Linked DNA regions of Homo sapiens. The protein of the gene in region 1 purifies or fractionates together with the protein of each later gene. This does not show direct contact. Each region holds a gene or a part of one and is shown on either strand. Other genes may lie near its edges.

Region 1 (7,501 bases):
ATGTGGAATTTAGAAGATAATTAATGATATGAAGAAAAATAAAACCTGGAAGGATGATGAGGAACGCCTGAGAGGGGGATGGGATAAAATAAGAGGATTTATGCAAAACGAGCAGCTCAGTACCTAGAAGGCAGGAGCCCCTCACGCATCACCACCCTGGCCTCATCTCCTAGGGGAGAAAGATCTCCACTCACCCTGCTCCAGCCACACTGGTGTCCCTGCCAGTCCTCCAATACAATGTCTGGGCCTCTACACTTGTGGTTTCCCCTGTTAGGGAGGCTCTTCACCCAGGTGGACTCAGGGTTCACCCCTTAGCTCGTTCCAGTCTTTGCCCAAATGTCACTTCCACAGTTGGGCCTTTCCTGGCCACTTTGTTTAAATTTGTAAGTGCCCCATCCCCCTCTCAGGCGTTCCTCATCCTCCTTCCAGGCTTTATTTTCCTTCATAGCATTAATTTTCTTCTAAACTCCACATAATTTACTTTGCTTACCTGGTGATAGGTGCTCAGTAAATATTTGTTGAATGAATAAAGAAAAGGCTGTTGATATTATTAGCATCGTTATTACTGTCAGAGTTTGCAGCCTTTGGCTATCTGCTGCCCAACTGTTATTAAATACTGATGGAGATGACTAACATTCATTTCACTAAATTTTAACATCTGTGGGTTTTAGTCCTAGCGCTTTGCTCTTCTCTTTCTTTTCTTTTTCTTTGAGACAGTGTAGTGGCGCGATCTCCACTCACTGTAGCCTTCACCTCCAGGGTTCAAGCGGTTCTCCTGCCTCAGCCTCCTGAGTAGCTGGGACTACAGGCATGCACCACCACGTCTGGCTAATTTTTGTATTTTTAGTAGAGACGGGGTTTCACCACATTGGCCAGGTCGGTCTCAAACTCCTGACCTCAAATGATCTGCCTGCCTCGGCCTCCCAAAGTGCTGGGATTACAGGCGTGAGCCACGGCATGCGGCCCCACTCTTCTCTTTCCATACTTAACTTCCATACTTTTGTTGGCTTGTTTAAATGCATGACTTCAAATACACCCCTTTATAAGTTACTCTCTCATTTACTCTCCAGGATTTGATCAATTGATTACATTTACTATTAAGACCGTTTTCCATCTGCCTATTAGAAAAGCTCTTTTTGGTTGAACCACACTCACTGAATATCTGAATGTCTTAATTTGAACTCATCATGTCCCTTTCAACTTTTCTTGGCAATTATTCCTTTTCTGGATGTTGTGTTTGCAAATAATTCCTGGGATGTGTTTGACTCTTTTTTCTCCCAGGCCTAAATCAACAATCTAGTCTGGCATATATTATTTTGACATCTTTCACACTTGTCAACTGTTAGTCACAAACTAAAACACTTGGGTTATTATCCCAAATGTCCTTCATTCATTTTCCTTCACTCTTGCACACAGTTGTTTCTTGACATAACATAGGCACTTTTATGATGATACTCATTTACTGATAAAGCTGCTGCTGCTTTTTTTTTTTTTGACAGAGTCTTGCTCTCTTGCCCAGGCTGGGGTGCAGTGGTGCAATCTTGGCTCACTGCAACCTCCGCCTCCTGAGTTCAAGTAATTCTCCTGCCTCAGCCTCCTGAGTAACTGGGATTACAGGCATGCACCACCACGGCCGGCTAATTTTTGTATTTTTAGTAGAGACGAGGTTTCACCATTTTGGCCAAACTGGTCTCAAACGCCTGACCTCAGGTGATCCACCTACCTCGGCCTCCCAAAGTGCTGGGATTACAGGCGTGAGCCACTGTGCCCGGCTTAAAGCTTCTTTTTATAAAATAACATTAATTTCTTTCTGATTAGAAAAGAACAGGATTTAATTTCTAAAACATAGAACATACAGAAAAAATGAGTTAATTGAAATCATACATCATCTTACTTAGAGAAACATTCATATTTTGTTACGTATGGGATTAATATATACTTTTTAAAAATAAAATTGTGATTATATTGTCTATAAAGTGTATCCAGTTCTTTCATTGAACATTTATGAAACATTTGTCATGACTTATGATTATATATTCTTCTAAAAAGTACTGATTGAGAGTAACGATATTGAGATTAGACTGCTGGAGAAATAATGTTCAACAGTCCGTCCACCCCTCTGAGGGTAGAGATTGTATCTTTACATCTGGCTGCAGATTCAGAGATGAGGTTGTATCCTGGGTCGCAGTAGAGGACTGAATGCTGAGCAAATGGACATTGAGGGCTCATAAGATGGTTCCCTGTGGCCAAGCTTGGCGGCAAGGGAGAGGAGCTGCCTGCGTGGAAATGGGCCAAACTGGCCAGGCCAGGAAATGAGACAGAGTCACAGGGGAACAACATACAGTGATGGATAAAAATCCAGGGTGAAGTTTGAATCACTGCAAAGATAGGCAGTTAATGGCTCAGCATCCTCTCTATAGGACACCCATAACCCTGTCATTTGCAACAACATGGATGGAACTGGAAGTCATTACATTAAGGGAAGTAAGCCAGGCATAGAAAGCAAACATTGCACATTCTCGCTTACCTGTGGGAGCTAAACAGGAAAACAAATGAACTCATGGAGACAGTAGAAGGACGGTTACCAGAGGCTGGAAAGTGTTGCAGGGAGTTGGAGGAGAAGTGGGGATGGTTAATGGGTACAAAAAAGTAGTAAGAGTGAATGAATAAGGCCTAGTATTTCCTAGCACAATAGGATGACTATCTTCAAAAATAATGTAACCATACACCTAAAATAACTACAATAGTATAAATGGATTGTTTGTAACACAAAGGATAAATGTTTGAGGTGATGGACACCCCATTTACCCTGATGTGATTCTAACGCATTGCATGCCTGTATCAAAATATCTCATGTAACCCATAAATGTATATACCTACTATGTACCCACAAAAATTAAAAATAATTTAAAAAGAACTTCAGAGAACAAACAACAAAAAGACCGGTATGGCTGGAGCAGACTGAGACAGGAGGTTTGAGGCGAAAGGCTCACAGGAATTCCTGTGGGGCCCTGTAGGCAATTGCCAGGACTTTTTTTTTTTTTTTGAGACGGAGTCTCACTCTGTCTCCCAGGCTGGAGTGCAGTGGCACGATCTCGGCTCACTGCAACCTGTGCCTCCCAGGTTCATGCCATTCTCCTGCCTCAGCCTCCAGAGTAGCTGGGACTACAGGCGCCCACCAGAGTAGCTGGGACTACAGGCGCCACCACGCCTGACTAATTTTTGTATTTTTAGTAGAGACAGGGTTTCGCCGTGTTAGTCAGGATGGTCTCAATCTTCAGACCTCGTGATCCGCCCGCCTTGGCCTCCCAAAGTGTTGGGATTACAGGCGTGAGCCATCCCACCCGGCAATCGTCAGGACTTTGGCTTGGACTGTGAGTGAGATAGGGAGTTGCAGGAAGCTTTTTCGAAAAACCACCTTTGGGCCAGGTGCAGTGGCTCCCACCTATAATCCCAGCACTTTGGGAGGCCAAAGCAGGCAGATCACTTAAGGTCAGGAATTTGAGACCAACCTGGCCAACATGTTGAAACCCCATCTCTACCAAAAAAATACAAAAATTAGCCAGGCATGGTGGTGCATGCCTATATTCCCCGCTACTCGGGAGGTTGAGGTGGGAGGATCGCTTGAACCCGGGAGGTGGAGGTTGCAGTGAGCCAAGATTGCGCCACTGCACTCCAGCCTGGGCGACAGAGCAAGAGCCTGTCTCCAAAAACAAACAAAAAAACCCAAAAAACTTCTTTTGGCAGTGTACAATTATTATTACTATTTTTTGTAGTAAATTTACAGAGATCTGCAGTCATGACCACAATCCAAATTTAGAACAATTCTATGACTTCAAAGGGATGCCTTAGAGCCGTTCCCTGGAACCACTCCTCTGTTCTCTCTGTATCTACTGGAGGGTTCTAAGCAGAAAAGAAACAAAGTCTGACTTATATTATTATCACTATTGCACCTTTTCTGTTAAAACATCATAATCCCAGCACTTTGGGAGGCCGAGGCGGGCGGATCACGAGGTCAGGAGATCGAGACCGTCCTGGCTAACACGGTGAAACCCCGTCTCTACTAAAAAATACAAAAAATTAGCCGGGCATGGTGGTGGGCGCCTGTAGTCCCAGCTACTCGGGAGCCTGAGGCAGGAGAATGGCGCAAACCCGGGAGGTAGAGCTTGGGGTGAGCCAAGATCGCGCCACTGCACTCCAGCCTGGGCCACAGAGGGAGACTCCGTCTCAAAACAAACAAACAAACAAAAAAAAAAACCCGTCATAATCTTCCTGTTGCTTTTTCCGATTAGATGGCGACTTGAATTTTTAGGGAATACATCCACCAGTTTGGGCACACCCACCAGGCACGACAGTTGAGGTCTGATCTTCCAGCCACTGTGAGTACTGAGAAAACTTGGCAGGGGGCCACTCTCACTGGCTCAATGCACCCTGACCACTGGAAGCCACTGTGTCAGCTGCTGGGTTCTGGCTCTGCCCACTCTTGGCTGCATTTGGGGCTGAAGTTCCCTGTGGGAGGCTGTTTTCTGAGGGAGCTGAGTGTTTACAGCCACTCAGCCCTGCTCTGCTCAGCTGAAGCAGAAAACAGAGACCTTTTGCATTACTTTGGTTCAAGAGCAAGGTAATTTGGAAAGAAATTTTTCAGACGAAGGTATCAGCTGCCTCTGAGGCCTTTGCTGATTAAATCAAGAAGTGACATCTGAAATGGTGTCGGGGAATGGGAAGGAGGCCTGGGGATTCTAAATTATCAGCTGTTTAGGTGGCTGAGGAATCCAGGGGTGGGAGACTGAGGAAAAGGACTGGGGCAGAGCTCAGTTCAGGAGAGGTGAGGGGCGGGAGAGGTGAGGGGCGGGAGAGGTGAGGGGCGGGAGAGGTGAGGGGCGGGAGAGGTGGGTCAGAGAAAGGAAGTCTCTGAGGCTGCAGGCCTAGGCCTGGTGGCCACTGCAGAGGCTGGGGCCTATGTTTTTCCAGGAAGTGAAACCTGAAAGTCACTTTTCCCCTTTAAGCCTCATTTTCTTTATCTTTAAATGGAGAAAATAACATTTACAGCATAGAGTTGTTATAAAGATTTCATGAAATAATGCCTCTAAGCACTCTTAAAATGCTTGGTACACAGTAGGCCTTCAATAGACTGAAGCTGTTATGGTTTTTCTTGTTGTGCCACGTTATTATTGTTGGTTGTTATTACCATATTTTGTTATTATTATTACTAAGAGGAATTTAATGCAAGGAAACTGAAACTGAGGTCACACGCAGCTCCCGGGCCAGTGCCTCTCAAACTTTAACATGCATATGACTCATCTGAAGATCCCGTTAACTTGCAGATTCTAATTCTACATATGTAGGGTGGGGTCCCATCTGCTGGTCCCAAGATCACACTTTGAGTAGCAAGACACTAAAACTGGGCTGGGCACAGTGGCTCACATCTGTAATCCCAGCACTTGGGAGGCCGAGTTGGGAGGATCACTTGAGGCCAGGGGTTCAAGCCCTGCCTGGGCAACATAGTGAGATCCTGTTTCTACAAAAAAACTTTTTAAAAGTTAGCCACACATGGTGGCTAGTGCCTGTAGTCCCAGCTACTAGGAAGCCTGGGGTGGAAGGACTGCTTGAGTTTGAGGCTGCAGTGAGCTATGATGGCACCACCGTACTCTAGCCTGGGCAGCAGAGTGAGACTCTGTCTCAAAAACAACAATAATAAAAATTTTAAAAATAATAAAATTAAATAAAAAAATTAAAAAGACACTAAAAGCCCATCATGCCATACAGCAGCCACTTGTGGCTTTTGAGCACTTGAAGTGTGGCTAGTCCAAATTGACATGTGTTTGTAAGGGTAAAGTCTATTTCAGATTGTGAGGACTTAGTACCAAAAAAAACAAAAAATAAATAAAAGTATGTAAAATATCTCTTTAACAATTTATTCTTCTATTGACTAGGAATTGAAATGGTCATACTTTGGCTCTATCTGGTTAAATAAAATGTTTTATTATAATAAATCTCACCTGCTTCTACTTTTCTTAATGGAAGTACTAGAACATTGTAAATTGCACAGGTGGCTCACGTTCTATTTCTGTTGGACAGTGCTGCCCTAGAGCTGTCTTCAGCTTTGCAAGGTCAGTTCAGGATTGGCCAAAGCCTTTTTGAGGGATTCCTTTTGAAGTATTGAGGTTTGAGAAGTGGGATCTGAGTTCTGACCTCAGACCCAGATACCCACAAGTCAGTGAGAGGTCAAAAGGACAGACCTCGGGGTCAGAGGAGAGAAATGACCATCACACAGCAGAACTGAGACTGAAGGTGGAGAGTTTATTCTACAAGTCAGTAAGGATCACAGTCACCATCAGCACTAACCACAGGTTTCTCCTAACCTATGTGTTGTCCCCAAAGCCCAGAATTTATGACAATGCCCTCTTTCCTCTCTTTGGTGACAGACAGGAGGCGACTGCATGAGACCATGGCTGAGACACCTAGTCCTCCAGGCACTGAGGAACTCCAGGGCATTCTGTGGGTCTCATGGGAAGCCAGCACCTCTACCTGTTCCTCAGAAGATCGTGGCCACCTGGGAAGCCATCAGCCTGGGAAGGCAGCTGGTGCCTGAGTACTTCAACTTCGCCCATGATGTGCTGGATGTGTGGAGTCGGCTGGAAGAGGTGAAGCCTGTTCTGTCCTAGAGTCCATCTGGGGCATCTGAGGCTGCCCTCATGTACCACAATGAGACTCAAGGCTCCAAGCATGTTGATGAGGAAATTTGGACCTGGGAATTTTGCTAGTTCTAAAATGTAAACTGTTGGCATTTGAGACTTAGGAAAAAATTCTGAGTCAGTGTTGTGAGCCTTAGACATGCTTGTTCCTTCTCTGAAGTGTCCTGCATTCTTGAGCCCAAATCACACAGTGAGACAGTTATGTCCCTTCCGATTCCCTTCCAGTTGTTCATCAACTGAAGGAGGAAGTTTTGTTTTGCTGCTACTCTGTCTTTGATGTTTTTCTCTCACTGTCACGCCCTTCTCTTCTAAATAAGGAAAGAAGGCCGGGCGCGGTGGCTCATGACCATAATCCCAGCACTTTGGGACACCGAGAAGGGCAGATCACCTGAGGTCAGGAGTTCGAGACCACCCTCACCAACATGGTGAAACTCCGTCTCTACTAAAAATAAAATAAAAAAAAATTACCCAGGCATGGTGGCGCACACCTGTAGTCCCAGCTACTTTGGAGGCTGAAGCATGAGAATTGCTTGAACTCGGGAGGCAGAGGTTGCAGTGAGCCAAGATCATGCCACTGCACTCCAGCCTAGACAACAGAGTGAGACTCCACCTCAAAAAATAAAATAAAATACAACAAAACAAAATAAAATAAGGAAAGAATAGGGCTCAGGCTCAAAGCTTTTTGCAGATCATAACAGATACATAGAATTGAATAAGATAACCCTGATTTCTTTGTGTGTCTCTGTGCATCTGCTTTCTTCTTTATTTTCCCTTATATCTGTGTCTGTTGGGTCTCTCTATTTCAT
Region 2 (7,789 bases), on another chromosome or scaffold:
GGTTAGTTTGAACCCTCATCATCTAACAACATGATATCTGTCTGTCATTTTCAATCCTTGACATATTGGGAAGGTTTTCAAACAACTTTAAGTCTTCTTCCTGGCCAAACTTTGAGGAATCCTCCTACCAGCTTGTCCTAGTTTCTGTGATAGGAGAAAATGTGTGCCTTTTACATGGGTACAATCCACACCACTTTCCCTCAGAGATGCCTTCTTCATCCATATCTTTAATTGTGACCGTGTTCCTTGTTATGATACTAAGGCTAATAAAAATCATAGAACTGAACCCAATTACTTCTACCTTTTATATTCTATTTTCACACATTTCTGGTCAAACACAAAACAGTAGAACTTTCTTCAGGGAGTTATTGCACCTCCTTTTACTCTGAATTTGTTTGCTCTCCAGTCATACCTTACTCCTTGCTTTAATGTATCTCTTCAAAAATAGACTTTATAGAATTATTGATTGCCAGGTTTTTTTTTTCATGACTCCTAAGCATCCTTATTTCCTCTCATGCTTAACTGATGTAATTTTATTTGTTCCTGCTTAAATAATCATCACTGATCAGGCAGGAATTAAGCACACAGCAATCCATTCATTCAGTCATTTTTCCAGAAGCATCTCTTGCATGCTTGCTATGTTAGAGACTTTTTGATAGATGCACCAACTTCTTAGAGTTGTTTCTGATTCATTACTTAGGAACATTTCAAGAGGGCAGTTGGAAGTCTCTGTACCTTCAAAGGAATTACTAACACCCTTATTTTCTCTTCATTCCAAAACCTAAGACCTTTATTCTCTAAGACATCCTGTTCTCATTTTTTTTTTCAATCTGTAGCAGGTCTTCCCTTGCTTATGTCAGTGGACTGTTTAAATGAAGAGTGGACTGTTTGAGAAGTGGACTGTTTAAATCAGTATAGACACAGGCTGTCAGTGTTTCTTTATGTTTCCTTTAAAGACATTTTCGTAATGATTAATATAAATGAGTTAATGGAAACAAAAATGTAAACAGTAGTTGATAAAAGAATAGTATCAATTAAAAACATACTGTGAAGTATTCAACTTCACCAGTGATTTAAAATAGAAATGAAAGCAAAATAATATTTTCTACAGCGGAGCAAATAAAATGAAAGATAATACATAATGTTGGTGAGGACATTTTTAAAGGGACACCCATATATTGCACTGGTATGTAGGTGAGTACACTCTCTTTGGAGAGAAATTTGTAAATAGTAATCAAATATGGCAATATTGACATGCATTGTAGCAGCAATGAAAATGGAATATTTTGTAATCATTTAAAGTAATGTTTTAAAAGAACTTTGTAATAACATCAAAATACATTTAACATAATATTGCCTCCAAAAAGCATTATGCAAGTCAATGGCAATTTTCAAAACTATGTTCTGAGCATTGACATAAATGCTAGAAGATAATACTTTAGTGTTAACAGAGATTATGTTTGTGTGGTGGGTTATTATCTATTATTCTGTATTTCCACATTTCTTTAAATATCAAATGAAAGTGAATACAACCTAGTACTTGACATTTTAACATTTTCAATACCAGATATGTCAATAAGGAATTCATAAAATAAAGTGCCCTGAGGGATTTCACAGGCTAAATGCTTCTATTTTTTAAAATGTATTAATAGAAAAGAAGACTAAATCTAAAAAAAAAAATTCATTTTATCAGAGAGTGACTCATAAGTTTAGAAAACCTTTGATGACCTGGCTCACAAAGAATGTACTTCCAAGTACACAGGGTCCCCAGCCTGATGTGTGTGCCTGCATTCATGCCTGTCACTCTGCTCAGCTGCGTGCAGACAGCTTATATGAAGGAGGACTGTGTACATGTGGTCAGAGAAGAAAAAAATGCTTATTTTTTAAAATGTTTTGAAAAATAATCTGTCCTAAAAGTGTAACATTTCCACTAAATTTTTTCATGTCTGACTTTAACATTCCCTACCAACCAACTCTTATAGCCTCAACTCCTTTGATCTATCCTAATGTAAACTCCCTCACTAATGTGTAATATATTTTTTTCCAGTTTGGTTATAGATTTCAGTCTAGCCTGAACACTCAAGTATGAAACTAGCCACTATTTTATTTATTGGCTGTTCCAACCTCCATTGTGGAATTATAATTGATGGATTTTCCAAGTCTCTAATTCAGAATATTTAATCAAATTTTCCAAAATTTCTGCCTTCTCCTCCTTCATTCTGATGACTAAAGACATGGACCATAAAATATATATACATATATACATACATATGTATATGTATGTATATACACATATATATATGTATGTATATATACATACATATATATATGTATATATACACACACATATACATATGTATGTATATATACACACACACATATATATATGTATGTATATATATACACACACATATATATATGTATGTATATATATACACACACATATATATATGTATGTATATATATACACACACACACCGTAGTTTGCAAGTCTGCATCTGGGACCCTTTACTGATAAAAATGAAAGCCCATTAAAACTCTCATGCCCACATTTCTCTCTAGACTTTAGAGTAGGAGAATTCTATCCTAGAATTGTTGATTGTTGACATTTCTATGGAAAAACATGTTTAATTCATCATGCTTTGTAGTCAACTGCTATAAATGGTGATGAAGTCTTTTCCTTGGTCAAGCTCTGGACTCCTCAGTACTTCCACTGTCATATTTGATTAAAACATAAGTGATGAAGGGAGGAAATATATTATAGTATTCATTGCATGGGTACCTTAGGGTAATGGGACTATGACTGATTTAAATTTATTTTGCATCCTAAAAAGTTTCCATTAGTGGGTGCAGCACACCAGCATGGCACATGTATACATATGTAACTAACCTGCACAATGTGCACATGTACCCTAAAACTTAAAGTATAATAATAAAAGAAAAAAAAACTTAAAAAGAAAAGTTTCCATAATGAGGATTGAGTTTATATCGTTTTCTTAATTAAGGAAAGACAACCCTCACTACACACACACACACACACACACACACACACATAAAAAGACAAGAGGTGAGATCAAGGCGTAAACTAGTATTGGACTAAGCCAGTAAGTACTGCTTCTCAGTCCTCAGTTCTCTAGGTTGGGAGTTTTCCTTTTGCTATTTTCATTCTCCTCCAATTCATTTTTCAATGATCTTCAACACAAATTTCGCCTTTATTTCTTGTTCAAAATACTTCCATGACTATTATGAATACTATTTATGGATGAAGGCTGAACATTTTAAGGCATACTAAGTCTCCCATGATATGGTACCTTTTCATTTTCCCATTCTATACCCTGCATCTAGGCTTTTAAAAAATATACCACATGACTTCATGCCTCTAGGCTATTGCTCATGCCACGGCATCCCTTCTGGGTTTTTTCCCCTCTTTATCTACTTGGTGAATTTGCATCCTTCAGTATAACACAGCTCAACATAATTCTATGCTTAAACTTTACTGAAAATGCACAAGGAACTTGATCTTTCTTTCTTATTTTCCCCATTTTATTTATTTTCCCATTGCATTTGGGCAACTTTCATGGCACCAGTTATTTTATTAATTATTTGTATAAACTAGTATGAGCCTATTTTGTTTAGCTTTCTATCACCAGGAGCCATGAAGCACTTTGAAATCAAATACTGTTTGTACTTGAATATATTAAGTAAGCGTGAGGACTTAAATTAAACTTTGTTCCTCTTTAAAAAAATCCTTACCCCAACTCTAGCACTGATTCTATGTTATTGAAGCTTACAATCTTTATGTCATTTTCTGTCATCTTTTCTGTTATGAGAAGACCTAGGTATGAGTCTATTGCCTTTATTCCTTGGCCTTCTTTGCAAGGGTATCAAAGAACACTGCTGCAGTACTTCCTGTTCTACATAGTCATGTGACTTAAGCAAGAGCATCTGCCAGCCAGTGAGGCCCCTTGAGAGCCTGGTTAAACATGGGACTGAAGGGTTAAGTGAATCACTTTTTATTCATGTTGAAATATGAATGCTGAAGTTTGGAAAATTTTATATATAACATTTTAATAACTAAAAAAACTTGACTTAGGAATAGTGCTTATATTAAAATCAGTGTTTGTCATTGTTTCATGAAGTTTTTACAAATCTAAGAGGCTTAAGAGGGATATAATAGTCCACTTTGCTTTAGTTGTGTTTTACTTGATATTACTGATTGCTTTAACTTTGAAACACAGAACAATGCTATAGTAAGAATGTAGTATACTACTCTATTAACCCAAAACATAATATAGATAGGTTTATTGTATATTTGTGGAGAAAAGTTTATTCTAACGTTCTTTTTACAAATAGTAAAAATGCTATTTGTAGGATGCTCTGATTTTTACTTTTTGTAAAAAGAACATTGTCTTTTTACCCCAACAGAAAATGGCAAGCGTTCAGCTTTCTTTGGGAATCCAAAATCTCTTATGAGGCATATTAGGTATCACATGTGACATAAGCAAAAGCCTGTGATCCTTAGCATGTTGGAAAGTTGCTACTCTTTAGGATAAGGTTGTCCATGATGTCTAGGTCATTCCATTCAGCTGCATAAACAATTCCTTTGATGGATGGCTGGTTTTCTACAACCCCAGCATTATTTTAGCAGGAGAAGGTAGTATTTGATGTGTTGCAATTTGTGTTACATGCCCATGGAACATCTCTGGACATTACCTCAGGAGGAGGGGTTAAGAGAAGGAGGAGCTGTGGCTGAAGACATTTAATGGCAGAATGAATGGAAATTCAAAGATCGCTGTGCAGTCAGCCTTAAACACTGACTGCACCCCTCCCAGATTTCTTTTACATTAACTAAAAAGTCTTATCACACAATCTCATAAAATTTATGTAATTTCATTTAATTTTAGCCACAAATCATCAAAATGACGAGGATTTTGACAGCTTTCAAAGTGGTGAGGACACTGAAGACTGGTTTTGGCTTTACCAATGTGACTGCACACCAAAAATGGAAATTTTCAAGACCTGGCATCAGGCTCCTTTCTGTCAAGGTAATACCCATATTGATTGTTTCTGATAAAATACTATGGGGTATAGTTTAGCAGTGAAGCAAAGGTGTCCCTTACAAGGCAAATACAGTTTTGAATGTAGCTCTGAAGTACTAATGTATTAATGTTTCCTTTACTGTGGAACCTACTGACTTAGCAAATGCTAATTTTTATCTTATCTGAGTAACATGACAGTAATTTTTACCCAACATAAAGAATGATGACAATTCTTGTGAACATGTAAAATGTAAGTACACTGCTTGAAAAAGAAACATCTTTTCTTTCATAGATAGCTTTCTGTGACTAGATACTATTGCTTACAGTTTGGATTTAAAAAATGGAGCTGCTTATATGTGTGTGAGCCACATTATGGTACACAGTGTGTTAAGGTCTGTTCTATAAATAGGGCTTACTGAAAAGTTCTCTTTTGAAATATCATTTAAACATTTTAAAAACATAATTAGAAAATATGTGTTTTTGAGATTTGCAGGTCATCATGTAGACACTGCTTTAGCTTTTTCCTTTTCCTTCTGGCTGTTTTTTTGGGCAGGCTAAACTTATTATTTTCATTTTGTAGAGTAATACATAGAGGCAGATAGCAGCTGATAATTCTGTCCCTCCACAGGTATCTATAATTGAGAGGGCAAGCCCAGGAAAGAAACATTAATTGCCCTTCTTCCTGCCCCCCAGCATTGAATTATGAAATTCCTGTAGGAACCTCTGCTCCTTCCTGCAACTTTATGAAGACGTTCATTATCAGAGAAGCCTGAAGTTACTCCATAGGAACTTTGCCAATGAAAATAATCTTTAGTGACTATAAGTTTAAGTAATTATATTAGCTTTAGATATATTGCTTCTTTAGCAGCAAAAGCTGTAAAATTTGAAATAGAAAAAACAAAAGAAAACCTCTGTCTGTTGATGTGAAAATGGGAACTCACAGTTTGGAGTGTTCTGCTTATACTTTGCATGCTCATTGAGTTGACTAAGCTTCTATTGTTTCAGTTGCTCAAGTCAGGATTCAGTGGGGTTTTGGTCCTGACACCTGCAAGGCCAAGGAATATTCATAGATTCCTGTGGCTGCCAGGGATAGGGATGGGAAAGGAATGGGAGTAAAAGAAAAGGAAGAGAGATGGAGACAGGGGGAGGGGAAGGGGAGAAGTGTGAGGGATGGGAGGGAGAGAGAGAGAGAAAGAGAGAGAAACTAGCTCAAGATCCCAGGAGAAAAGAGGAAATACATATAGTAGCCTTAGTGGTGTGTTAACAACTTCAGCCTTTAACATTGAGAAGATTCTAACAAGAGTATAGGAAATTACCATTTTAAATTAAGAAAACCAGAAAGGAAAATGTCTTTTATGTTGTTACATATTCCAATGTATCCAATTTTACTCTTTTTAAATGGACATCATGTTTTAAAGATAGTTAAAATCATTAGGATGTAGTTACATAATGGCCATAAAGGGCACTGGGAGCAGTCACTAAAGGTTAGTGGCATTATGTCTAGTTATATATATTTTCTTGAATTTAGCTTAATTATAGCAAAAGAATGGGAAAGGAGAATATTCTAAACTAACATCAAAGACATTGTAACTAGATGTAAACTATGAGAATTTATTGTTAGTAATACCTCAAGGTACTCATGTATCAGTTCAGAGAAAATCAATAGTAATGAAAGTTATCCCCTATGATTATATGTGCCATCTAATACTTCAAAGTTGGGTGACTTGGAATATCTTCTTCTCACTCTGTGAGAAGGTAGGTATGTAGGTAAGGATAGGTGCATCTTCATCAGACCCCAGAAACCGCGAAATTGAGTACTTACTTAAAATGGCACAGATATGATTGAAATTAGAATCCAATTCTCCAAGATCACAATAAGTGCTCCATACAACCACCACCACAATCACAACCACGACAAAATGGTCTAATTATGTGGATGGATTACTGTGAAAGCAGTTCTAGCTCATGGTGACAGATCTGTTTCAAGGGTCTGTCACAGTGCACAGCTAAGAATGACAAATTTGTAGGAGCACTAAGCCATCATTTCATGGTGTAAAAGCCATTACTCACACTCAATCATTACTGGCCAGAGTTTTGGAGGAATGCCAAGCACAAAAAATAGAAGTTCTTGAACTTCACAATAGTGAATTAAAATTCCATAGAACAGCCCAAGGGGACTTGTGTTATTATTCAGTTATTGTGAAATAGTCCTCTATCTACTTTTCTTCCTGCCTTCACTTTAAAAACTCAACTGTCTTAGAAAAATATATCCAAATTTACTATTTTTAGATGGACATCATATTTTAAAGATAGTTAAAATCATTAGGATGTAGTTACATAATGGTCAGTGAAGGGCACTGAGAACAGTCACTTTAAAGGTTAGTAGCATTATGTCCAGTTATAGATGGTAAATGGATTGGGAAAGACACCCTGTAGTCACATCTATAATCATTGCCCTGTAAATTGGGTTGCTTTTTCGACATATTTAGAGGTTTGCTTTTCCTCTCTCTTTGATGACAGAGACGGTGGGTTTGACGACAGCAATGACGCACTTATAATTTTATGTGGCCCTTCCCTGGGTATTTGTCAGCGGCTAATATTTATAGAGTGCTTTGCCAATCGGCACAGTTGTATTTTACTTACAGGAAAGAGGAAAGAATTTCAAGGTGCTCTATATTTTAAAGAAAGTTGATATCAAGGGTATAAATGATCAACAACCATAAAATACTAAATACTAAAAAGTTTTAGAT
Region 3 (7,024 bases), about 50 Mb from region 1:
TCACTCTGTTGCCCAGGCTGGAGGGCAGTGGCACAAACTTGGCTCACTGCAATCTCTGCCTCCCAGGTTCAAGCAATTCTCCTGCCTCAGCCTCCTGAGTAGCTACAATTACAGGCTTATGCCACCACGCCCAGCTAATTTTTGCATTTTTAGTAGAGACGGGGTTTCCCCATGTTGGGCAGGCTGGTCTTGAACTCCCGACCTCAGGTGATCCACCCACCTTGGCCTCCCAAAGTCGTGGGATAACAGGCATGAGCCACTGCACTTGGCCGAGGCATAATTTTTTTTTTTTTTTTTGAGACTGAGTCTTGCTCTGTCGCCCAGGCTGGGGTGCAATGGTGCGATCTTGGCTCACTGCATCCTCCGCCTCCTGGATTCAAGTGATTTTCCTACCTCAGCCTCCCGAGTAGCTGAGATTAACAGACGCGAATAACCACTCCCAGTTAATTTCTGTATTTTTTAGTAGAGACGGCGTTTCACCATGTTGGCCAAGCTGGTCTCGAACTCCTGATCTCCGGTGATCCACTCACCTTGGCCTCCCAAAGTCCTGGGATTACAGGTGTGAGCGATCGTGCCTGGCTGGCGTAATTATTTTTAAGTGTGAGGTTTAAATAGTCTGCCTTATATCAATTCTAAGGTATTATATAATCTTGAAGCAACAAATTAAACCAAAAATGAACCTCCCTAGGGTCTCCCACTTAGAAACATTTACACTGCGATTAGTTTATCACTTTTTGTGGAAATACCTGATAATTAAATTTAAAAGGATTTCAAAAAATAGGAGAAAGACTTTGACATCAAGGAAGCATTATGAGGCCAAGTGTGGCGGCCCACACCTGTAACCCCAGTACTTTGGGAGGTTGAGGTGGGCGGATCACTTGAGCCCAGGAGTTTGAGGCCAGCCTGGACAACAAGGTGAAATCACGTCTCTACCAAAAAAACAAAAAATTAGCCAGGCATGGTAGTGCATGCCTGTAGTCCCAGCTACTCAGGAGGCTGTGGTGGGAGGATCACTTGAGCCCAGGAGGCAGAGGTTGTAGTGAGCTGAGATTGAACCACTGCACTCCAGCCTGAGTGACAGCGTGAGACTCTGTCTCAAAAACATTAACAAAAACAAAACCCACTTTTGCTCTTAAAAGTATCCACTGCGGGCCGGGCACGGTGGCTCATGCCTGTAATCCCAGCACTTTGGGAGGCTGAGGCGGGTGGATCAGCTGAGGTCAGGAGTTCAAGACCTGCCTGGCCAACATGGTGAAACCCCATCTATACTAAAAATACAAGAATTAGCCAGGTGTGGTGGCATGCAACTATTAATCCCAGCTACTTGGGAGCCTGGGGCAGGAGAATCACTGGAATCCGGGAGGCACAGGTTGCAGTGAGCCGAGATCACGTCACTGCACTCCAGCCTGGGTGACAAAGCAAGACTCTGTCTCAAAAAAAAAACTATCCACTGCATAAAATAGAAATCCATGAGTCTAAACTGGTGTGTGTGTGTGTATGTGTGTATACAGATATATAACTGAGTAAATAAATGGGGGAGAAGGAAATCTCTTCCTGACAGTAATATGCCAACTATAATAAATGTAGAAGTATGATCAAAAAATCACCATTTGTCAACCATCACGGTGGTGGCTGACTCAGGCAACAGTTGTCAATGGATGCTAAGCCCGGTAGGTGGAGGTCTCATATGAACAGGATATTGGCATAATCTCAGAATCCATCTCTCCTCAAAGGGCACTGGCCCATTACAAGGGGAGAAAACAGGGTCTCTGTGCTAGAGATGCTTGGAGGACACCAATGTAACTGAGTGACCAGGTTTATCACCACCAGAAGTGAGACAGGACAGCCATACACCTCCTGATGTGGTGCACTGCTGAGAGTCCAGCCTAATTTCTGTGGTCTTACTGCCAAAAATGTATGACCTGGTTATGATGATGGATGCACAACTCTGTAAACAGATTTCAGCACTTAACAAGGATGAGTGGCATGGTATGCAAATTGTATCTCAATACAGTGATGGTTATAAAAGTCTCTAACCCAAGTCTGATCACAAGACAACAGCCTAGGCCAGGTGTGGTGGCTCGCGCCTGTAATCCCAGTACTTTGGGAGGCCAAGGTGGGTAGATCACTGGAGGTCAGGAGTCCAAGACCAGCCTGGCTAACACGGTGAAATCCTGTCTCTACTAAAAAAACAGAAATTAGCCGGGCATGGTGGTGGGTGCCTGTAATCCCAGCAACTCGGGAGGCTGAGGCAGGAGAATTGCTTGAACCCAGGAGGCGGAGGTTGCAGTGAGCAGAAATTGCACCACTGCACTCCAGCCTGGGTGACAGAGCCAGACTCCATTTCAAAAAAAAAAGAAAGAAAAGAAAACAGCCTAGGCAACACAGGGAGATCCCATCTCTACAGAAAAATACAACAACCAGCCAGATGTGGTGGTGCATGTCAGTAGTCCCAGCTACTTGGAAGGCTATGGCAGAAGGACTGCTTGAATCCACGAGGTCAAGGCTACAGTCAGCTGTGATAGTGTGACTGCACTCCAGCTTGGGTGACACAGCAAGACCCCATCTTAAAAAAAAAAAAAAAAGGGAATAAGAAAACATTAGCTAAACACAGGTTGAGAATTATCAGAGTCAAAGGCCTGTATTCTTTTTTTTTTTTTTTGAGACAGTCTCGCTCTGTCACCCAGGCTAGCGTGCAGTGGCATGATCTCTGCTCACTGCCACCTCCGCCTCACGGATTCAAGCGATTCTCCTGCCTCAGCCTGCTGAGTAGCTGGGATTACAGGTGCACACCACCACGCCCAGCTAATTTTTGTATGTTTAGCAGAGACAGGTTTTCACCATGTTGGCCAGGCTGGTCTAGAACTCCTGACCTGAGGTGATCTGCCCACCTCAGCCTCCCAGAGTGCTGGGATTACAAGTGTGAGCCACCATGCCCGGCCAATATTGTTGTATGAATCTAACATTACTTGTATAGTGGTATAATATTAATTAATGATGGATTATAAGAATCCATTCTGTAATCTCTGTAACTATTACAAATTAATATAAAGGGACTTAGCTTACAAGCCAATAAAGCAGAAAATACTTGACCTAAAAGAAGGCGAGCACAGAGAAACTAAGCCTATAGAGCATATTTCTCTTGGGGAATGAGAACAATATTAAGAACCTAGCAATTAAGCAAACACAAGCAGTTGTCTACTTTGCTTAAATGCAATCCACATTATTTACAAACGCAAATTTTTGTCAAAGTCTAAAATGTTGCTGGGTACAGTGGGTCATGCCTGTAGTCCCAGCACTTTGGGAGGCCAAGGTGGGAGGACTGCTTGAGGCCAGGAATTCAAGCTCAGCCTGGGTAAGAAAGCGAGATCCTGTCTACCAAAACACCACCACCAAAAAAAAAAAAAAAAAAAAAAAAAAGGAAAACGAAATTTGCCAACTCTCTAAAAACCAGAGAACATGAGCATTATTAGTCATCCTTAAACAAAATTCAGGAGATTCCACCTTGCTTCTTCTCATGCTACTTAGCAACATTTAGATTAGCTACTGGTGGGGCAGTATCTCTGAAAGGAGAGGGAATCTTATACGATTAGTGCAGCACAGCCATGAGCCAAATGCAGTCTGATCCTTACCTGCCCTGCTCCAAAAGGACAATATCCTTCCACCCCATTTTGGAGAGGTGATAGGCCACAGAAGTGCCCGTGATTCCACCTCCACAGATGACCACCTGTGCCTGGGTGGGCAGGGCCATGGAACGCGCCTCGGCAGCTGACGTGCTGTTTCTTGCAGAGGACCAGTTCTGCCATCCTGGGCTGGCTCTTTGTCTTCCAACAATCGACAGCAACCGGTAGAACATCATGTCTCTCACCAACTAGATCTCAGGAACTCAAACTAGACAGAGAAACCAAACATATTTCATGCCATTCTACTCAGTGCATGGGATTAATGAGAAAGGGATTTGACAAAGAACGATAGCCATTCATTCAGCAAATATTTGAGGGTGGCTGGGCATGGTGCCTCACACCTGTAATCCCAGCACTCTGGGAGGCCAAGGCGGGCGGATCACGAGGTCAGGAGATCGAGACCATCCTGGCTAACACAGTGAAACCCCGTCTCTACTAAAAATTCAAAAACTTAGGCTGGGCGCAGTGGCTCACACCTGTAATCCCAGCACTTTGGGAGGCCGCGGCGAGTGGATAACGAGGTCAGGGGTTCGAGACCAGTCTTACCAACATGGTGAAACCCTGTCTCTACTAAAAACACAAAAATTAGCTGGGCATGGTGGCAGGTGCCTGTAATCCCAGCTACTCAGGAGGCTGAGGCAGGAGAATTGCTTGAACCCGGGAGGCGGAGGCTGCAGCGAGCAGAGATCGCGCCACCGCACTCCAGCCTGGGCGACAGAGCGAGACTCCGTCTCAAAAAAAAAACAAACAAACAAACAAAAAAAAAACAAAAAAAGAAATATTTGAGGGCATTCTGAGTTTCAGATATTCTGCTAGCAGTGAACAAGAATGGGGAAGTCCCTGTCTTTATGAAATTTACATTTGAGAGTTTGCGTGTGTGAATGAGGAGAACACCAATCAATATACAAATAAACATACAAATAAAACAGTAAATAAAGCTAACATGATAGAGTAACTAGGGGCATATTTAAAACAGGATGGTCAGAAACAGCCTCCAAGGAAGTGACATTTGGAAACAGACCTGAAGGATAAGGAACGAGCTATACATTTGGCAGACACTGAGACGAGCATGTGCAAAAGCCCTGAGGTAAGACAGACCAAGAACAAAAAGGAGGCCGGCATGTACACGACACGGGGAGTGTGGGGAGATGATCTAAGACAATGCTGGAGAGGCAGGCGGAAGCCAGTTACACACAGCCCTTGGGTGCCATCAGCAGGAGTTGGAATTTTATTCAAAGTACAAAGGAAAATCACTCATGCGGGAGTATCACTAGCAGGGGAATGAAATGATCTGGGATGTTTTTCTTTTCTTTGTTTTTTTTGGCGGTGGGGGGTTGGGGGATGTTTTCCAAAGGTCAGTCTGGCTCCATGGTGGAGAGCGGATGGTAGAATTATAAGAAAAACAGAGTTGACTTCCTAGGCTCAAGTGATCCTCCCACCTTGGTCTCCCAAAGTGTTGAGATTACAGGCATGAACCACTGCCCTTGGACAAGGCAGGGTTTTAACAAACTTAATCTATCAGCAAAACAGATGACTGTTCAAGTTTCAAGAAACTGAAGAAGAAAGCACCTACTGGCTGTCCATGCAGTCATGTGTACAGGAGGATGAGGACTTTGAGACGAGAGGCGGTAGACAAGGGGGCCTTAGGGTAGCTCACTGCTAGTCATCTCCTTACCGCCTCCACTGCCAGCCACAGGACCCACAGATGCTCCACAGTCAGCACAAATTGTCCAAGGCCAAGGTATCTATGTCCATCCATCAGAGATGACTCTCAGAATTGCAACCAATGCAAGCACAGACTGTGTCCAGGCAGACATCCCATCCAACTGGAGACAAATTGTCTTGGCCACCTTGTGGTTGCCACCATGCCTCTCATCCCTGGTCCCTGTTAAGCACCATCTCAAAACAGAAGCTTCTCTACCCGGCTAGTCTTTCCATAATCTCATCTCCACGTGACCAATTTATTTCCCGTGGCCCAAGCTCTCTTTGCTTTCCTCTCCTTCAAGCCCCTCTACTGCACCCTCCAGAATACCTTTCCCAAAGGTAAACACCCACCCCTTTGCTGACATTCTCTCTACCCTCTGTCCCAATGGCAACACAGCTCTCCTGGGGAACTGCTGCTGCCAAATGGCCAGCCCCGTCCCATTGACCTCACTGTCAACCTCCTGGCTTCTGACCCGTGACCACTCGGTTATACTTGAAAACTGTCCTGCTCCTTGGTGGCTTAGGCTAGCACATGTTAAGCCACAGGCAGACCTCTGTCTGTATTCAGGTTCAGAGCCCAGCTATTCCTCTCTCAACCTTCAATTTCACCTCCTTTCTTCCCTCATTCTAAGCAGATAACCTGGCTCATCTCATTCCCTGAAACCCTTCCTATAGACCCACTTGCATCTGCAACCATCTCTTCCTTCCTTCTTTTATCCACTGGAAAGTTAATCTCCCCCAAGGGCCCTGGATCCCACTTCCTCCTCTCTTCTCTTGACCCTAGCTCCATCAACTGCTATCTCTCTTTCATGTACCTGCAACGTTTCCCTCCCTTTTTGCTGCTTTTCCTCAGCAATTTTTTTTTTTTTTTTGAGACAGAGTCTCACTCTGTCGCCCAGCTGGGAGTGCAGCGGTGTGATCTCGGCTCACTGCAACCTCTGCATCCCAGGTTCAAGCAATTCTCCTGCCTCGGCCTCCTGAACAGCTGGAACTACAAGCACGCGCCACCACGCCCAGTTACTTTTTGTATTTTTAGTACAGACAGGGTTTCACCATGTTGATTAGGCTGGTCTTGAACTCCTGACCTCAGGTGATCCACTGGCCTTGGCCTCCCAAAGTGCTGGGATTATAGGCGTGAACCACCACACCCACCTTAATGACTTTCTGATGCCCTCAGGAAAAAGGCAAAACTCTTTTCATATCAAGTGCAAGATCCTTCACACTCTGGTTCTTATCTGTGGTCTCATTTCTCCTTTCCTCACACTCTGACCAAACCAGACTGAACAACCTGTAATTCGTCAAACATATCAGGTGAGGCGTGAGTGTTCTATTCGGCTCCAGGTTCTGTGCATGCTGTTCCCTCCTGGCATGGTTCCTGCCACCTCTCCCCCAAATACAGGTAATCTCCTCAGGTCACAGCCTCTTTGACATCTTATTTATTTTTTTTGAGATGGAGTCTCGCTCTGTCGCCCAGGCTGGAGTGCAGTGGTGCGATCTCAGCTCACTGCAAGCTCTGCCTCCTGGGTTGATGCCATTCTCCTGCCTCAGCCTCCTGAGTAGCTGGGACTACAGGCACCCACCACCATGCCTGGCTAATTTTTTTTTTTAATTTTTAGGAGAGACGGGGTTTCACCATG
Region 4 (7,024 bases), on another chromosome or scaffold:
AATTTTTTTTTGTATTTTAGTAGAGATGGGGTTTCACCATGTTGGCCACCTCGATCTTCTGACCTCTTGATCCACTGCCTTGGCCTCCCAAAGTGCTTGGAATTACAGGCATGAGCCACCGAGCCCAATGGTGTGATTTTTCATATATCTTTTATCCTTATAACAACTAGGTAAAAAATCCCAATTTTACAGTAGAGGAAACAAAGCTCAGGGCAGTTAAGTAGTTGCTTAAAAGCACAATTGGCTGAAGTAGAATTTGAACCTTAGATAATATGATTCTGAAGGCTTTCTTTTCTTTCTTCCTTTTTTTTTTTTGAGATGGGGTCTGGCTCTGTTGGCCAGGCTGGAGTGCAGTGGCATGATCTTGGCCTACTGCAGCCTCTGCCTCCTGGGCTCAAGCCATCCTCCCATCTCAGCCTCCCAAGTAGGTGGGACCACAGGCACGTACGACCACACCTGGCTATTTTTTAATTTTAATTTTTATTTTTTGTAGAGATGGGGTTTTGCTATGTTGCCCAGGCTGGTCTCAAACTCCTGAACTCAAGCAATCCACCCACCTCAGCTTGCTTTTCTAATTACAAATTGTCTCATTTGAATCATGGTCTCATTGTGTGATGCATTCATGAAATTTGAATGTTTAAGCCCTGTGTTACTTGACATCCATTATTTTCTTTTGTAATCAGTAAATATGGAAAAGAATGTTTAGGCTTATATGAATGCTTTAGAATTGCCTGGAGGTTAATGTTTCCAACATGCTGATAAATTTCTGACAAATCATTTGGGAAAAGAAATTTCTGAGATTATTACAGAAACTAGTTTCTGGTGTAAAAAAATGTTTATAGACATTTATATATTTATACATCTACCATTTGGATTTTATTCTGTTCCTGAGAGGTTCAGAACAGAGGTAAAAACTGCTCTAGTCCTTTTCTAAGAGGAAAAGATGTGACATTTTTGATGAAGAGTGAGGGAAAAGGATTTGTTTAAATGATTCCAAACTTTAAAAAATGTAGGTGGGAGAACAAGGATGAAAAAGGAATTTGGGAAGAAACACTTTTTTGGTGGGGCTGGAAACATAGTGTTTCATTGTAGGTATCTGGAGTTAGATGCCCGCAGGAGCCATGCTGAGGTGCTGGGTATCAGTGGCTGGCTTTTGGGCCAGGGATACGAGGCTAGAGTTAGAGTTAGAACTGTGAGCCCTGACGGATATAGTGAGTCAGTTAATATTTAATTGAATAAATGCTTCGTTTTATAACCCTAAATTAGGATTTGGAAGAAGGAAGAAGAGACAAGAGGAGTTAGAGGTATGGTTTGAGAGGAGCCAATGTAGTGTAGTGTTACCAAACCTAGGAAAGAAATTTCAAGAAGTAGTTAGCATTCATTCATTCATTTGTCTAGAGATCTAGCTCTTTACTCAGAAAGTGTTTGTGGAGCATTTTCTAAGTTCCAGGTACTATGGCACGTACAGAGGAGAGAAAAAGAAATTAAAACATATTCCCTAACTATGTCCCAGGTGCAGAGAGGCTAAGGAATAAAAGATTGATGAGGCCAGGTGTGGTAGCTCACGCCTGCAATCTCAACCCTTTGGGAGGCCAAAGTGGGAGGATTTCTTGAGCTCAGGAGTTTGAGACCAGCCTAGGCAACATAATGATACCACCCCCACCCCCGGCTATCTCTACAAAATAAAATAAAATAAAATAAAAATTAGCTGGGTGTGGTGGCACGTGCCTGTGGTTCTAGGTACTTGGGAGGCTGAGGAGGGAGGATCACTTGAGCCCAGGAGGTCAAGGCTGCAGTGAGCTGTGATCACACCAATGTACTACAGCCTGGGTGACACAGCAAGACCCTGTCTCAAAAAAAAGTCTGGGCACGATGGCTCATGCCTGTAATCCCAGCACTTTGGGAGGCCGAGGCAGGCAGATCACCTGAGGTCGGGAGTTCAAGACCAGCCTGACCAACATGGAGAAATCCCGTCTCTACTAAAAATACAAAATTAGCCGGGCATGGTGGCGCATGCCTGTAATCTCAGCTACTTGGGAGGCTGAGGCAGGAGAATCACTTGAACCCAGGAGGTGGAGGTTGCAGTGAGCCGAGATTGCACCACTGCACTCCAGCCTGGGCAACAAGAGCGAAAATCTGTCTCAAAAAAAAAAAAAAAAAAAAAAGATTGGTGAAAGAATTTGAAAAGATCTTTGATCTTTAATGAGAATAATTTTAGTAGCATGGTAAAGTGTTATATACAAAAAATACTGCTTTTGACAACACTCTTGAATAGTTGAAGCAAAATTATATTTTTTGAAAGATAAGCATATTGCATAACTTTCAAAAATTAGTTTCTTTATTTTAAATGCCTATTGACATTTTCGTTAGAAAAAACCCCACAAACTGATGGGATCAACCTAATAAGATCAAAATAAAAGTGAATTTAAAGAATGTTGGAAGATACAGTTTTGTGATTTCATTCACAAAACCTAATACAGCATCCATGTGGCATACTCTCTTTGGTATTGTTTGTTTGTTTTTGAGATAGAGTCTCATGTTGTCCAGGCTGGAGTTCAGTGGTGTGATCTCCGCTCACGGCAACCTCCGCCTCCGGGGTTCAAGTGATTCTCCTGCCTCAGCCTCCTGAGTAGCTGGGATTACAGGCATGTGCCACCATGCCCAGCTAATTTTTATATTTTTAGTAGAGACGGGGTTTCACCATGTCGGCCTGGCTGGTCTTGAACTCTTGACCTCAATTGATCCGCCTGCCTCGGCCTCCCAAAGTGCTGGGATTACAGATGTGAGCCACCGTGCCTGCCCTCTCTTTGGTATTATTTATTCAAGAAACCTTTGGTTTCCTAGAGCTGCTGTACAAATGACCATGGACCTGGTGGCTTAAAACAACAAATTCATTCTCCCACAGTACTAAAGGCCTGAAGTCTGAAATCAAGGCATGAGCAGGGCCATGCTTCGCCTGAAGGCTCTAGGGGAGAATCCTTTCTTGCCTCTTTGAGCTTCTGGTGGCTGCATTCATTCCTTGGCTTGTGGCTGCATCACTCCAGTCTCTGCCTCTGTCTTCACATGGCTGCCTTCTCCTCCTCCTTCTTGTGCGTCTTTCCCTCTCATTCTTTTATAAAGACACTTTTCATTGGATTTAGGGCCATGACAAGATCTAGGATGATTTCATCTCAAGATCCTTCACTTTGTTGTATTGGCAAAGACACTTTATCACAGGTTCCAGGACGTGGACACATCATTTTAGGGGCTATCGTTCAATTCACCTACACGTAGTATGTGTCAGACACTACTTAGAGCTGGGAATATAATTGTGACTGTTTCTGCTCCCATTGTGGTTACATTTGAGTAAGGAGACTGTGCTCGTATAAATAGAAAAGTTCAGAGAGTGAGAAGTGCTCTCGAAGGAAAAAGATAGGTTAATGGGATAGAGAGTGGTAGTGGTGCTGAGTTGGGGATGTTACCTAATGAGACCATGGGGGACATTTCTGAGCATGTGGCATTTGGACAGGAAACTGAGCCAGCCAGCCATGTGACTATATGGGGGCCTAGCATTGCAGACCAAGGAGTGCCAGGGCAAAAGCTCTGAGGGGAGATTGCATTTGGCATAATTAAGGGATGAATGTGGCTGCTGTGGTTGGAGTGAACTGAATGAGGGGGTGATCTTAGGAGATGAGGGAGGAGGAGTGGGTAGGCGGGACAGAGTCATCAGGGGCTTGTATTTGGAATTTAGTAATGAGAGTCCAGTTGGAGGCATTTAAGCACATTGAATTTATGTTTGGAAAAGACGTTTGTGACTAGTACGTAGCGAATGTCTTAGTAGGGGTGGGAGTAGGATTGGGGACTGGGGTGGGAAGAGTGGAAACAGAGAGACCCATCAGGAAGCTGTTGTAGAAGACCAAGCTAGAGATGATGGTAACTTGTGCTAGGGCACTGGAGTTGCTGAGAACTGGTCAGACTTGGAATGTATTTTGGAGCTAGAGCCAGTATCTTGCTGTGGGGTTTGAAGGCAGATACAGATGTACCTCATATCTTGGCTTTATTGACCCTGCAGATACTGCTTTTTTTTTGTTGTTTTTACAGATTGAGGGTTTGTGGCAACCCTGCTTTGAGCAACTGTATTGGTGTCATCTTTCCAATAGCACATACTTACTTGGTGTCTCTGTGAAACATTTTGATAATTTTTTCATTATTACTATGTCTGTTATGGTGATCTGTGATCAGTGATCTTCGATATTCTTATTGTAAATATTTTGGGGTGCCGTGAACCACGCCCATATAAGTTGGAGAAACATAATTGATAAATGTGTGAGTTTTGACTTCTCCAAGCAGTTATTCCCCTATGTCTCTCCCTCTCCTCAGGCTTCCCTAATTCTCTGAGATACAACAATATTGAAATTAGGCCAATTAATAATCTTCTAAGCGTTCTAGTGAAAGGAAGAGTCACACATCTCTCACTTTGAATCAAAAACTAGAAATCATTAAGCTTAGTGAGGAAGGCCTGTCAAAAGCCAAGATAGACTGAAAGTTGGGCCTCTTGTGCCAAATTGTAAATGCAAAGGAAAAGTTCTGGAAGGAAATTAGAAGTGCTACTCCAGTGAGCGCACAACTGATTAAAAAAAGTGAAACAGCTTTATTGCTGATATGGCGAAAGCTTTAGTGGTTTGGATAGAAGATCAAACCAGCCACAACATTTCCTTAAGCCATAGCCTAATCCAGCGCAAGGTCCTCGCTTCAGTTCTGCGAAGGCTGAGAGAGGTGAGGATGCTGCAGAAGAAAACTTGGAAGCAGAGGTTGGTTCATGGGGTTTAAGAAAAGAAGTGAGGCCGGGCGCAGTGGTTCACACCTGTAATCCCAGTACTTTGGGAGGCCGAGGCGAGTGGATCACAAGGTCAAGAGATTGAGACCATTCTGGCTAACATGGTGAAGGATCAGATGATTGTTAGCATTTTTGAGCAATAACTGTTTTGAACAATAATTAATTGGACCTGAACCTACAGTATCTGTAAGGTATGTACAAACAGGGAAAGGAAGGAATTAAGAGTGACTTTTGAAGGGTAGACACACAAGGTCGCTATTGTGTGATTTTGTGTTTATATGCAGTCTCCAGAATAGACTGATCCATGAAGACAGAAAGTAGATTAGTGGTTGCCCAGGGCCTGGAGGAGAGGGGATGGGAGTGACTGCGAATAGTTAAGGGTTGTCTTTTTGGGGTGATAAAAAATGTCCTGGAATCAGTAGCCATCATGGTTCCATGCCTTGTGGATATACTAAAAACCACGGAGTTGTATACTTTTTTAAAAGGGTGAATTTTATGGTATGTGAATTACATCTCAATTAAAAAATAAAAGAATGGTCCGGGTGCAGTGGCTCACACCTGTAATCCCAGCACTTTGGGAGGCCGAGGCAGGTGGATCACCTGAGGTCGGGAGTTCGAGACCAGCCTGACCAACATGAAGAAACCCCATCTCTACTAAAAATACAAAATTAGCCAGGCATGGTGGCACATGCCTGTAATCCCAGCTACTCGGGAGGCTGAGACGGGAGAATTGCTTGAACCTGGGAGGCAGAGGTTGCAGTGAGCCAAGATGGCACCACTGCACTCCAGCCTGGCGACAGAGTGAGACTCCGTCTCAAAAAACAAACAAACACAAATCTTCGAATACTTATGTTAACAAAGTAAAGCAAAGAGGCCAAGGTGGGAGGATCACTTGAGGCCAGCAGTTCAAGACCAGCCTGGGGAAAATAGTGAGAACCCCCCAGCCGCCCAGTCTCTACAAAAAATAAAAAAATTAGTGGGGCATGGTGACATGCATCCATAGTCCCAGCTATTCAGGAGGCTGAGGTGGGAGGATTGCTTGAATGCAGGAGTTCAAGGCTGCAGTGAGCTATGATCCTATCACTACACTTCAGTCTGGGCAACATAGTGAGATCCTGTCTCAAAAAAAAAAAGTACAATGAAGCTAGGTGTGGTGGCAGGGATGTGTAGTCTCAGCTACTTAGGAGGCTGAGGTGGGAAGATCATTTAAGCCTAGGAGTTAGAGGCTGCCATGGGCTATAATTGTGCCTGTGAGTAGTCACTGCAGTCCAGCCTGGGCAAACATAGTGAGACCCCCATCTCTTAAAAAAACAAAAAAAGTAAAATAAGGTGAAATTAATATATTTTACTTAATATATTCAAATATTCAAAGTATTATTTGAATATGTAAATGTAAAAATTCACTAATGAGGTCTTTTACATTTTCTGGGTACTAAGTTTTCAAAATCCAGTGTGTAGTTTACTCTTAGAGCACATCTGAATGTGGCTCGTGGCTGCCATATTGGATGGAACAGCTCTAGGGCACAGATTGTGCTACTAATCAAGTCCCACCTTGAGGTGCTGGGACTGGCCTTTTGAATGCAGTGTTAGTCAGCCCTTGGCCAGGCAGGGTCGGGGGAGCTCTCAGGCTTGATGGAGAGCTGTATAGTTGAGGAACATGGTCGAGATGAGGGTGCAGGTGTGAGCCGTTAGTTGTCAACACAGCAGTTAGAGAGGATCTGAGTGGCCACTGACAACATCTGCTACAGCGGGATGGGGAAGAATGGCCTGGCGGAAGAGTCAAGGGTGGGATGATGGAGCTCTAGAGTTGACATGTATAGTTTCCTGGTGCTTGAGCTTAGTACAGAGGCAGAGCCCAGAGAATCTTGAGTCTTGAACATCTCTCTCAAATATTAGGTGTTCAACTTGGCTTTTGGCAGACACTGAAGATTGGAATGGTCTCTAAGATCCTGAAGACTAAATAGTCTATTTGAAAGAAAAGCTGTGCTTCCAGGAAAAAGCCAGACCTAATTAAGTGTCTTCAGAGAAGGGCATGGGCTCTGTTACAATGCATGATGAAATACCGTGTCATAATACATGGATAAGACCTTCACCTGGAATTTTAGAGATGAAGCAAGATGAAGTAAACTAATGTTTACTTTGACCTTGGTGAGATCATTTTATAGCTCCATTAACCCAGTTTTGAGGATAGTTTCTTCTTTGAAGCAG

What was found.
Region 2: the proteins of ACSM5 (region 1) and CPS1 purify together in Homo sapiens (affinity purification with mass spectrometry; 2 studies listed by BioGRID and IntAct, with this or other methods). This does not show direct contact.
Region 3: the proteins of ACSM5 (region 1) and PDPR purify together in Homo sapiens (affinity purification with mass spectrometry; 2 studies listed by BioGRID and IntAct, with this or other methods). This does not show direct contact.
Region 4: the proteins of ACSM5 (region 1) and PCCA purify together in Homo sapiens (affinity purification with mass spectrometry; 2 studies listed by BioGRID and IntAct, with this or other methods). This does not show direct contact.

What each region holds. Positions count from the first base shown.
Region 1 is NC_000016.10:20,405,045-20,412,545, forward strand, and holds the start of ACSM5 (acyl-coenzyme A synthetase ACSM5, mitochondrial), read left to right. Parts: upstream 1-4,489; 5' UTR 4,490-4,621; intron 4,622-6,425; 5' UTR 6,426-6,440; coding exon 6,441-6,644; intron 6,645-7,501. UniProt on the Homo sapiens protein: Catalyzes the activation of fatty acids by CoA to produce an acyl-CoA, the first step in fatty acid metabolism.
Region 2 is NC_000002.12:210,551,815-210,559,603, forward strand, and holds the start of CPS1 (carbamoyl-phosphate synthase [ammonia], mitochondrial isoform b precursor), read left to right. Parts: upstream 1-4,784; 5' UTR 4,785-4,904; coding exon of another isoform or gene 4,905-4,919; coding exon 4,920-5,045; intron 5,046-7,789. UniProt on the Homo sapiens protein: Involved in the urea cycle of ureotelic animals where the enzyme plays an important role in removing excess ammonia from the cell.
Region 3 is NC_000016.10:70,117,328-70,124,351, reverse strand, and holds part of PDPR (pyruvate dehydrogenase phosphatase regulatory subunit, mitochondrial isoform 1 precursor), read right to left. Parts: intron 6,866-7,024; exon of another isoform or gene 5,257-6,865; intron 3,892-5,256; 5' UTR 3,860-3,891; coding exon 3,633-3,859; intron 1-3,632. UniProt on the Homo sapiens protein: Decreases the sensitivity of PDP1 to magnesium ions, and this inhibition is reversed by the polyamine spermine.
Region 4 is NC_000013.11:100,092,086-100,099,109, forward strand, and holds part of PCCA (propionyl-CoA carboxylase alpha chain, mitochondrial isoform a precursor), read left to right. Parts: intron 1-7,024. UniProt on the Homo sapiens protein: This is one of the 2 subunits of the biotin-dependent propionyl-CoA carboxylase (PCC), a mitochondrial enzyme involved in the catabolism of odd chain fatty acids, branched-chain amino acids isoleucine, threonine, methionine, and valine and other metabolites.